Homo sapiens: one gene and its partners. The protein of the gene in region 2 purifies or fractionates together with the protein of the main gene of each other region. This does not show direct contact. Each region holds a gene or a part of one and is shown on either strand. Other genes may lie near its edges.

Region 1 (3,655 bases), on a different chromosome or scaffold from region 2:
ATAGGCAGGACTAAGTTGTTATTCACTATGTCAGCAAACGGGGGTAAAAATACTATTTCAACACCTAAGACCCGTCAGAGAGCAGCTAAGGTGCGGAACTGAAGTACAAGAGGCCTCAGCCCAAGGTCGGGAGAGGACAAGCATTTTTAAGGGTCCAGTGTAACCCAGCCACATGTGCCAGGGATGAAGGGCTTCAGCGTGGTCACCTGGGCTTGTGTCTGCTCACGCCTAGGTCTGCTAGGATCCTCTATGGATATAAACCTAAAAGAATCTCCCATAAAATTTCATACAATAATTAAGTAAGGATACAAGGAATGGGGTAAGACAGTAGACAAGATTATTTTATAATTACTTCCCCGAAATGTTCAATAAATATAAACTGATAATAACATGTATAATTAGTATATATTATCGTAAGCGTTTAAGAGGCAACAGTGAAATATCCATTTAACTGACAACAAAAGTGATTACAATTTACCAAGCATCTGCCCCATGCTAAGCATCACACTAAGCAGTGTACTTTCATCTGCCCAGACACCACACAGTAGATCTTAGCTCAGTTTTGCAAAGGGGGAGACCGAGGCGTGGAGAGGTTTTTCCCAAGGTCAGCCAGCCAGGTCTACCCAACCCCCAAGTTTATGCTTTTGACCATCTCACCATCCCAAGTAGATCATCCTGTTAACCATCATTCAGTCCTAGACACGCAGCATTACTTTTGGATACAAATCAGCCCCATGGCAAGGTAGAAAAATGAGATTTTTAAGAAAGGAAATCTATGCATGGTGTCTGGTGGGTGCTGGAAAGTGTAGAAGAATAAAAGTGATGTCCCTGGAGCTACACTGGATATTTCCAGAAAATCCAGTTACACAGAAGTTGTCAGACACCACTCTTGGCTTCTCTGTATAAAGTAGGAAATGCTGGAAAGAATCCCAGGCACAGTGCAAACTGAGGGAGGGTCTTCTGCGTGCTTGGGGGAGCACAGAGCCAGGGTCCTTTTAGAGAGAGCTCTTGGGTGAGGTCGAACGTGGACGGTCTCCAAGTTCGTCCAGTGAACATTCTACAAGGCTCTACCCCATCTCTTTGCAGAACGGGCTCTGGGGCTGCCAATTCAGATTTGGCCATCTCTTCAAAATAAACAAAGCAGCCGAGGCCATAATTTATCTCTAGGCTGTGGAAAAGCCAGCAAAACTCAAAATCAGACTGCCATCTGTGAAGGTGAAATGAATTATCAAGTGGCACACTAAATGGAATTAATAAATCAAGTTTGCGACTTTGCACACGGAATGAATAATGGGCCACTCTGCTAATTAATCCAGCCCAAAGCAGTCCATTTCCAGTTTAATAAGGGCTTTCACTCACCTTGCCAATCTTGACAGTTTCGGAATGTTCAAGGCCCAGAGCCAGCTGCTCCCAGGTTGGAGCCAGGGCTTTGCAGTGACCACACCACGGAGCGAAGAACTTGATAAAGTGGTCGCCTGGAGTGGAGAGCCAAGGCAGAGACGGGGGAAAGAGGAACTGTAATTTATGTCAGACCTCACTAGAGAGTTAATTGAAGAATCAGATCTTTGTCCTGCTTAGCAAATCTTAGTTCGGCATGAGCACTTTAATTGGTACAAAGGGACTCCATCAAATGTGTTTCTGTTCATGACTTCATAACAATACTCAAAACCAAATTTGTCATCTTTGATGGACAATCAGCAATCAACTCATTATTTGGAAAACTGTAATAAAAGGAAAGAATCAGGCATTTCTCCCACCTCTCCTATATGCACTGTACCGCTGAATAACCAGGTGATAAATGAGGGTGAGTTTCTCTTGGTTAAAAAATGAAGGGACGCTTGAATGAGCCTCGGCACTTGGCAGCCCTAAGGAATGGACGGACCCAGGCTCTGCCTGTCATGGTCGACCACATCCCAAAGAGAGACAACTGGACGTTCTGTGCCCCCACCAGCTATGAGGTCTTCTTGTGCCCCCAAAAAACATCACACTGAAACTGATTTTGTCCCCAGACCCAACTACCAATTTCCAGGAAACAGAGAAATCAGGGAAACATGTAGACCACACTACGGGGACACAATTAGCAAAGTCTGGACCACGGGGAGCTCTACAGGTCAAACCACCTATGTCTTCAGCAAGAAAGATAAAGAGATGTCTGGAGAACATGCAGGTTAAAAGAGCCTTAAAAGATATATAAACACATACACATATAGAACTATAGTGCTCAGGAATGTGCACTTCAGTGCACATAAAGGAGTTGATATGGTTTGGCTGTGTCCCCACCCAAATCTCATCTTGAATTCCCACATGTCGTGGGAGGGACCAGGTAGGAGGTAACTGAGTCACGGGGACAGGTCTTTCCCATGCTGGTCTCGTGATAGTGAATAAGTCTCATGAGATCTGATGGTTTTAAAAACGGGAGTTTCCCTACACAAGCTCTTTTTGCCTGCTGATATCCATATAAGATGTGACTTGCTCCTCCTTGCCTTCCACCATGATTGTGAGGCTTCGCCAGCCACGTGGAACTGTGAGTTCTCCATTAAACCTCTTTCCTTTGTAAATTGCCCAGTCTCGGGTGTGTATTCATCAGCAGTGAAAACGGACTAATACAAGTGGTTTCCACAAATGTCAGGCAAGTGCCTTCTTGGAGAAGGGAGGGCGGGCTGTGCCCTGCATGGGACACGGGAAGCTGGCAGTTTTATTTCTTGAACTGGACAGTAGTTACAGTGTGACCACGCTATAAAAATTCATTAAGCCCTACATTTGTTTTCTCGATCTGTATTATATTTTATCATAAAAAAAAGTTTAAAAAATGAAACATCACCCCCTTGGCTACGGGGAAAAAAACAAACAAACCCTCACAGCATCATTATTTGGACACAGAAGGTGTTTAGCTGTTCTACCCTGACATTGGGCTGATACCAAACTGAAAGCAGGCTGTGGCCGGGGAGAGAACTAACCAGTGGCATGTGGCCTGGCGTCTGAGCAGGACTCTGCCACACTAAGGCTCACAGCTACTGTCTCATCAGCACAGCAACAATGCACTTGAAGAAAATGGTGAAAAACTTCCTTTAAAAGTTAACAACTTCCATTAAAAAATGTGCAAAGCTGAAACCATGTGCAGGTGCACAGTAGATCCTGCACTGTAAGGTGGAGACAGGCTCTCTGGGAACCTAATCAGAGTACTGATGGGAAGCCAGCAAGGGCAGGAAGCCACCATGGTACCTACACGACACAGCTGTGTGGCAGTGACCCACTTAGGGAGGCGCTGGCTAGGCCTGCCGGAGTCGGTCTGTCCTGCCGGAGTCGGTCCGTAACAGGTGATTTGGGAAACACACCCTGCTCAGAGCCCAAGACAATCCCAGCTGAAAATGCATTCCCGTAGCGGAAAGCATGCTAGAGTTCTGCCGTCAGGGCGCTGGTATGGATGAAATAACTTTTAGCAAAAGTGGGAAAAGGCTGAAGGCCTCACGATAAGTTACTGTGGACAGTAAGTGTGGTGGGGGAGGGGCTCTGACTCCCAGCAGGCACAAGTCACAAGGCCAGAGGCAATCCAAGCCATTTCTCACGTTTCCAACCCAGTCTTCTAAGGGGATTTCTCTCCATGGTAGCATTTGGTAATGGGAGCCGGCCAGGAAGCCAAAATTGCTTTCAAGTC
Region 2 (3,655 bases):
GTATTCCTAGCTTACTCAGGAGGCTGAGGCAAGATGATCTCCTTTGAACCCAGGAGGTTGAGGCTGCAGTGAGTCATGATTAAGCCACTGCACTCTAGCCTAGGCAACAGAGCGAGACCCTGCCTTAAAAAAAATAGAAAATTTATCCTAGGAATATCTGAATCATTTCCACACTTGCTCCATTCTTAGATGGTGGATATGATTGAAAGACTTCATTGAAGAGATGACTTTTCCAAAGAAATTAGGGACTGGGGCATTGAGGTGATGGGAGAGCAGAAAAGGCACTATTGATTGGAAGACCATTCCAGGCACAGGACAGGGAGTCTAGAGAATGGAAAGAGCACATCCAGGCTCCATAGTTGCAGAAACATAAGACAGGGATAGGAGGAGAACATCAAAGATCAAAATGCAAAACCATGATTATATGGCTTTTTGAATCAATTAAGAGAGAATTATATTATTTGGACACATTTTGTTTCATCAGTTCCCTTTCCATGCATTTCTTTTTTTGCTGGCATCAGCATGAACAGAAGTAATCATCCTACATTCTTTGCTTTACTGTCACTAGAGTTTAAAATGTAGAGGAATAGTTCCTCCCTAACATTTCTAGTTAAATCCTTATTCCAGAACTTAATCCTGGACTTAAGTTTAGACTGCTATGGTTCAAATTCTGTTTGTGCCACTTCTTGGCTATATGATATCTGATGAGGAATTCACTTCTCAGAGCTTTGTTTTTTTTTCATTCCTGAAATAGGATGATTACACGTCAAATGGCTCTTCTTAAATAGCTAATGGTCATGGACTACTTTGTTTATGATAAGGCACAATACCTGCTATTAATAATTATCTTAATTAGTAATTTGATATAAGAAAAAAAATTCCTGTTTTCCTCTGTAACAATTATTCTGATTGTGAACTCTATCACAGCATGCTAAAAGTCATCTATTCTGAGCTGATCTACCAAAATTGTCCCACAAACTTGGTAATCTCGTATCCTTAAGGAGAGAGAAGTTTTCTAACACTGCAGTCTGCTTCTTGTTGCTTTACCACTATTATGCTTTAGTTCTATTTGAGAGAACCCCAGTTGTGTCTTACAAAGAATGGTTGTAGGCTGTAGATGTAGCCTACAGATCTGGTCATGCTGTTACCATTACGGAGAGTCAGGAATACTGATAGTGATAGAGATATTGCACATCTGTATGTTTACGCTGGTTCTTTTATGTTTTTCAGATTGCACTCCATCACATTGCCACTGTGGAGAAGTTACCCATCACTAGCCTGGGTTGTCCCCTGACCCTCCGCTGCAAGAATTTCCGGGTGGCCCACTTTGTTTTAGATTCTGACCTTGTGTGCCATGAGGTTTATATTTCACTGCTCAAGCTTTCTCAGCCAGGTAGTTATGATAGTATTTTTATCTAAAACCATTTTAATATTTTTCCAAAATGGCATAATGGAAAGATCAGGGCTATGGAGTCAGAGGAGGGTTTGGATCTGGGCTGTACCACTTATTAGCTCCATTATATTTGGGCAAGTTATATAACCTCTGAACTCATTTTCTTTACCTGTAAAAGTAAGGAGAGTAAAAGCTCTTCAAGGGGATTGTTTTGAGCCTTGAATACCTTCATGTATTAGTATATAGTAGATGTTTAATAGATATTTTCTTCTCTCTCCTTCCCTCCTTTAAAGTATCAACTTGTGAATGTTTTCTCAGTTCAGGAAGGAAGACTGCTTTGGAAGAAAATTTGTTTCCTGCTGTCCTGCAGACTTTTTGTTTGGCCCACGATTTCCACCCCTACTTTTAATTCCAACTAGAAGACTAAGGCAGTTCATCAAAGTCCTCATTAATGTAGGACTTAATGCTTCCTCCAGCATCACCCTTTCATTCCCCAGCCCCCACCCCTAGGCAATTAACCAGCTTCCTCTGATTTTAGTCTTTGATTTTAATCATGCTCTTACATTTTCTCTCCCATTTTTCCCCTTTTCCCTCAGAGTAATTCCTCAATATTTGCTGATTTTTATTGATAAAGTTACCTGCTGGATGGCCTAGCATTTTACAAGTCTCTGATAGGCTCCATTAATCTCTGGAGAAGTTGTTGCCATATAAATTGGTCAAATGAGTTATTTGATTGGATGCTGTATCTCGTGAAGGGAGGAAGCAGGACTGACAGAGAAAAGAGAGGAAGGGGCCATTTATAAGTCAGAAGTTGCTGTTGGTCTGACAAGTACAATGCAAAAACATTGTTAAAGATGTGCAACATGTTACAATAAGCAGTACTATTAGGACATGGGAGCCCAGTTAAAAACTTTTGGTAAGGACTCTTTTCTTAACATGTGAAACCCTGAAGCCTCAGTTCAGTCAATTATCCAGCATTCTTTTTTTATAGGAAGCCAGGCAGAAAGATCCCACTTCGTATTGATAACACAAAAAATTAAAACATTTTTTCAAAGAACCCAAACAATATTCCAGTTTTTATTCCTTACATAAAGGCAAACTTGCACACACCACAGTCCTTTTCTGGGGCTGTTTGACAAACATTCCCTTAGGAAAAGGAAATCTAGCCTTTATTTGCATTGTTTGATGATTTTTAGGTTTCATTCATCATTTTGTTTTCCATGCCTATCTCTCTTCTCCAGCATTACCTGAAGATCTTTATGCTTTTTCTTATAATCCCAAATCCTCAAAAGAGATGAGGGAAAGTGGATGGAAACTGATTGACCCAATATCAGACTTTGGGCGTATGGGAATACCCAACAGAAACTGGACCATAACAGATGCCAACAGAAACTATGAGGTAATTTTGTCCTTGTTGTTTGCCTTTTGGTGCATTTAATTAAGATGGTAGAATATCAGGAAACAAGATTTTGAAAAAAGAGAGAAATGACTCATAATCTCTCTCTCCTTTCCATTCAACATTCAGCCATTCAACAGACATTTATTGAGTACCTACAGTGCAATAGGCACTGAGTAAGAGATCTCATGGCCTAAAGCATAGGGTGTTATGGGAGCATAGGTGCAGGGCATGAAAATCAGCCTAAGGAAGCCAGAAACAACCTGATGCTTTGCAGAGTAGCCTTGTGAAGGCTAATTTATTTTAACATTTTTTATTTTTAATTATTATGGATATATAATAGTTGTACATATTTATAGGGTACATGTGATATTTTTATACAGGCATACAATATGTAATGATCAGATCAGGGTAATTGGGGTATCCATCACCACAAGTATTTATCATTTATTTGTGTTAGGAACATTCCAATTCCATTTTCAGTTATTTTATTATTGTTATCTGTAGTCGTCCTGTTTTGCTACTGAATACTAGATCTTATTCCTTCTATCTAACTGTATTTTTGTACCCGTTGAGGATCCTCTTTTTATCCCCCCCACTCCACTACCCTTACCAACCTTTGGTAACCATCATTCTACTCTCTGTCTCCATGAGTTCATTTTTTTTTTTTTTTTGCTCCTACAACATGTGAATGAGATTATGCAATATTTGTCTTTCTATGCTTTGTTCATTTCACTTAATATAATGTCCCCCAGTTCCATCCATGTTGTTGCAAATGACAGGATTACATTTTTTTGTGACTGAGTTATATTCTATTGTGCATATGTACCACAGTTTTCTTTTCTTTCTTTTTGAGACAAGGCCTC
Region 3 (3,655 bases), on a different chromosome or scaffold from region 2:
GTAAGAATGCATGGAGGTTGTTGGAGTTGAAATGATCCACCAATAATGGATAGTTTCTTATGAGTCTTGTTGCCAACAAATAATCTCCCTTTGGTCTTTTTCATTCGTTTTTCATGGTTAAAGGTAGAGAAACACTTTTTTTTTTTTTTTTTGAGAGAGTTTCGCTCTTGTTGCCCAGGCTGGAGTGCAGTGGCATGTTGTCGGCTCACTGCAACCTCCTCCTCCCGGGTTCAAGCGATTCTCCTGCCTCAGCCTCCCAAGTAGCTGGGATTACAGGCATGCACCACCACGCCCAGCTAATTTTCTATTTTTAGTAGAGATGGTGTTTCTCCATGTTGGTCAGGCTCATCTTGAACTCCCGACCTTAGGTGATCCGCCCGCCTCAGCCTCCCAAAGTGCTGGGATTACAAGCATGAGCCACCGTGCCCGGGTGAGAAACACTTTTCTGTGAGAAACACTTTTGTGTGGATTTTGTATCTCTCCAATCAGTGACACCTGGCTTTGAGACATTCTTTAGAGCAGAATATACTTAGACTGATGAGATGTAATCTTGAATCTCCTGGTTGATAAACAGGTATCTAGATTACAGTTTTTATTAAGTGAGGGCACCATTTGGCTTAGTGACAGCATCTTATGGTGGAAATAGCATTGTATTAATATTTGAGTGCTAATTCTGTCATTCAAGTGTAGTTTCACATACGGATAAGGCAAGTCCCTTTTCTCCTTCTGAAATCTTAGTTTTGTTATGTGTAAAAATGGAGAGGACAGTTGCCCCATCTACCATACAGTGTTACTCTAAAGACTGAAATTCAATATGTTTCATTTATATAGGAAAACTATGTTTTGTCAGTTGTAATAACTTACAAACATAAGTTATTGATATTTTTGAAAATAGACTCAGATATTTGAACAATAATAAGAGTTTGTAAGTGTATATGATTTGTAGTTATTTTAATAGACTTGGATTAATCCAAGGAGTAGACTTAGAAAATTAAGTACAAATACAATAGGTGCCTTTGGCATATAATTTTACATCCTATATAATCCATGCTTGCTTTAAATTTTTAAAAATTACTTTGTAGTGTTTTCCTTTTTCTTTAGTTTTTCTCCAAGAGATTCAAATCTGCTGCCATGTTAGCTGTCTTTGCTGTATCTGCTGTAGTACACGAATATGCCTTGGCTGTTTGCTTGAGCTTTTTCTATCCCGTGCTCTTCGTGCTCTTCATGTTCTTTGGAAGTAAGTATCTTGGTATGCTGTGAGTACTGGGTACTATGCTAAAAAAGAAAACCAGATAGAAAGGAAACTATAAAATCAATGTAGGAGAACTAGATAGTAGTAGTAACATTTTAAGGTAGTACTTCTTTATCAGATGGTCAGAATATTGACTTTGAATAATTATACACAGCTCTGTCTCAAGATATTTACACTTTGAAGTAGGGAAATGAACTAGGTAACCTCATGAAGACCATTGATAACACTGATTTGATAGGTCATAAAAGTTATCTATATAAACAGCTTTCCCATTCGTAAACATTGTCGGTATGCACCCCCTAGAAAACTGACAAGTTTTTGAGTGAGTAGAGAGGGAAAAGTTGGAATATGAATATTCTAATTCCATGAAATATATATACACATGTTCTGAAAACACTGATTTCTTGTAAGTTACTGATTTTAACACTGAAGCTTTATTTTTCTTTATAGAAACAGTGACCAGAATAAAAAAATATATAAACAGTTGTTGCTCACTGTGATTATTAAATAACAGCAGATACCTGAGGTCCCTCATCTTCTGATAAATTATGTTTTGATACCTGTATATTTCTTTCTTTTTTTTTTTTTTTTTTTTTTTTTTTTTTTTTTTTTTTGAGACAGAGTTTCACTCCTGTGACCCAGGCTGGAGAGCAGTGGTATGATCTCAGCTCACTGCAACCTCTGCCTCCCTGCTTCAAGTGATTCTCCTGCCTCAGCCTCCCGAGTGGCTGGGATTACAGGCACACACCACCACGCCTGGCTAATTTTTGTATTTTTAATAGAGATGGGGTTTCACCATGTTGGCCAGGCTGGTCTCGAACTTCTGACCTCTGATAACTGTATATTTCTTTGTTGCCTTCCTATTTTTAGTGGCTTTCAACTTCATTGTCAATGATAGTCGGAAAAAGCCGATTTGGAATGTTCTGATGTGGACTTCTCTTTTCTTGGGCAATGGAGTCTTACTCTGCTTTTATTCTCAAGAATGGTATGCACGTCAGCACTGTCCTCTGAAAAATGTGAGTCACCAACCTGGTTGGAGTGCAAAAGAACCTGTTTATTCTCTGTTTGTGAGAGTTGGTGGGCAATGTTGAGGAGCACAGTAGTGGAGATTATGATGAATTAGTGTTAAAGAGAGGGAAATGAGGAGTAAAAGCATTAGTTTATCATCTGATCTTATTGTACTTGAAGTTTTTCCTTTTGTTTAGTTTTCTTCACATTTAACTCTCCTAGCTTTTGGTTTTCTTCTTTTACTGCCTTTTCTTCAGCCCCTTCTAATTTTTTTTTTTTTTTTGAGACAGAGTCTCACTCTGTCGCCCAGGCTGGAGTGCAGTGGTGCAATCTCAGCTCACTGCAACCTCTGCCTCCCGGATTCAAGTGATTCTCCTTCCTCAGCCTCCCGAGTAGCTGGGATTGCAGGAGCATGCCACCATGCCCGCTAAATTTTTGTATTTTTAGTAGAGATGGGGTTTCACCATGTTAGCCAGGATGGTCTTGATCTCCTGACCTCATGATCCGCCCACCTCGGCCTCCCAGAGTGCTGGAGCCACCGTGCTCAGCCAGCCCCTTCTAAGTATTCTCCAGGGTTTTCCTAATGCCATGTATGTCCCTACTACCACCACCTAAAACATACCTTTTTTTTTTTTTAAACCTCTTTCTTCTAAATAAACTCTTGTAAAAATATTGGGCAACACTGAGATCCTTCCATTTCTCTTGATTCTATTTTTGTTTTTGGTAATTCAGGTTTCATTTATTCTTAGGACTTTAGTTTTTAGCTATACATGGGTACAGATTTTAGGAGGATGGCTTTTTTTTTTTTTAAGAATTTTATTTTCAAGTAACACAGTATAGGACATAGGAATTTCCCAGCAAACACTCTGGTTAATTTAATTGATGTGATCTGGTTAATTAGATCTACTAGCACTAGCTGAAAGTACTGCTTATAGTTATGGATAGAATTTCATGATGGAAACACCCTAAGAAGTAGGATTGCCAGGCTTTTTGTGCATATAGGGCGTGTCCTATATTTAACATTTTTGTCCTGCCTCCTGTATTGGGTTTCTTAGAACACCCCAAATGTCCTATATTCTGCTTTTTTCAGTAAATTACAAAAAATATGGCAGATAGAGCTATTTGTCTCAAGTTCATCTCGGCATCCTGTACTTGTATTTGCTAAATTTGGTGGCCCTACTAATAATTCATTCAATCCCTACAACCTTCCAGGTTTGGAGGGGATACCTTCTTGATTTATTTCCTGGGTATTTCTCATAGGCATCTGTAACTGAAGATGTCCATAATGAAATTAATCAGTTTCCTCTCCAAAGCTTCCCCTCTTTCTGTGTACCCTATGTCTGTTAGGCTGCCTCAACTCTCCCTCTTTATTTCATATTAATCTCCTTTGTTCAT

Evidence for each region.
Region 1: the proteins of MTMR8 (region 2) and TXNDC5 purify together in Homo sapiens (affinity purification with mass spectrometry, with the first as the bait; one large-scale study listed by BioGRID). This does not show direct contact.
Region 3: the proteins of MTMR8 (region 2) and SOAT1 purify together in Homo sapiens (affinity purification with mass spectrometry, with the first as the bait; one large-scale study listed by BioGRID). This does not show direct contact.

The regions. Positions count from the first base shown.
Region 1 is NC_000006.12:7,890,262-7,893,916, forward strand, and holds part of TXNDC5 (thioredoxin domain-containing protein 5 isoform 1 precursor), read right to left. Parts: intron 1,476-3,655; coding exon 1,360-1,475; intron 1-1,359. UniProt on the Homo sapiens protein: Protein disulfide isomerase of the endoplasmic reticulum lumen involved in the formation of disulfide bonds in proteins. Can reduce insulin disulfide bonds.
Region 2 is NC_000023.11:64,353,914-64,357,568, reverse strand, and holds part of MTMR8 (phosphatidylinositol-3,5-bisphosphate 3-phosphatase MTMR8), read left to right. Parts: intron 1-1,230; coding exon 1,231-1,393; intron 1,394-2,634; coding exon 2,635-2,792; intron 2,793-3,655. UniProt on the Homo sapiens protein: Lipid phosphatase that specifically dephosphorylates the D-3 position of phosphatidylinositol 3-phosphate and phosphatidylinositol 3,5-bisphosphate, generating phosphatidylinositol and phosphatidylinositol 5-phosphate.
Region 3 is NC_000001.11:179,349,195-179,352,849, forward strand, and holds part of SOAT1 (sterol O-acyltransferase 1), read left to right. Parts: intron 1-1,101; coding exon 1,102-1,237; intron 1,238-2,122; coding exon 2,123-2,268; intron 2,269-3,655.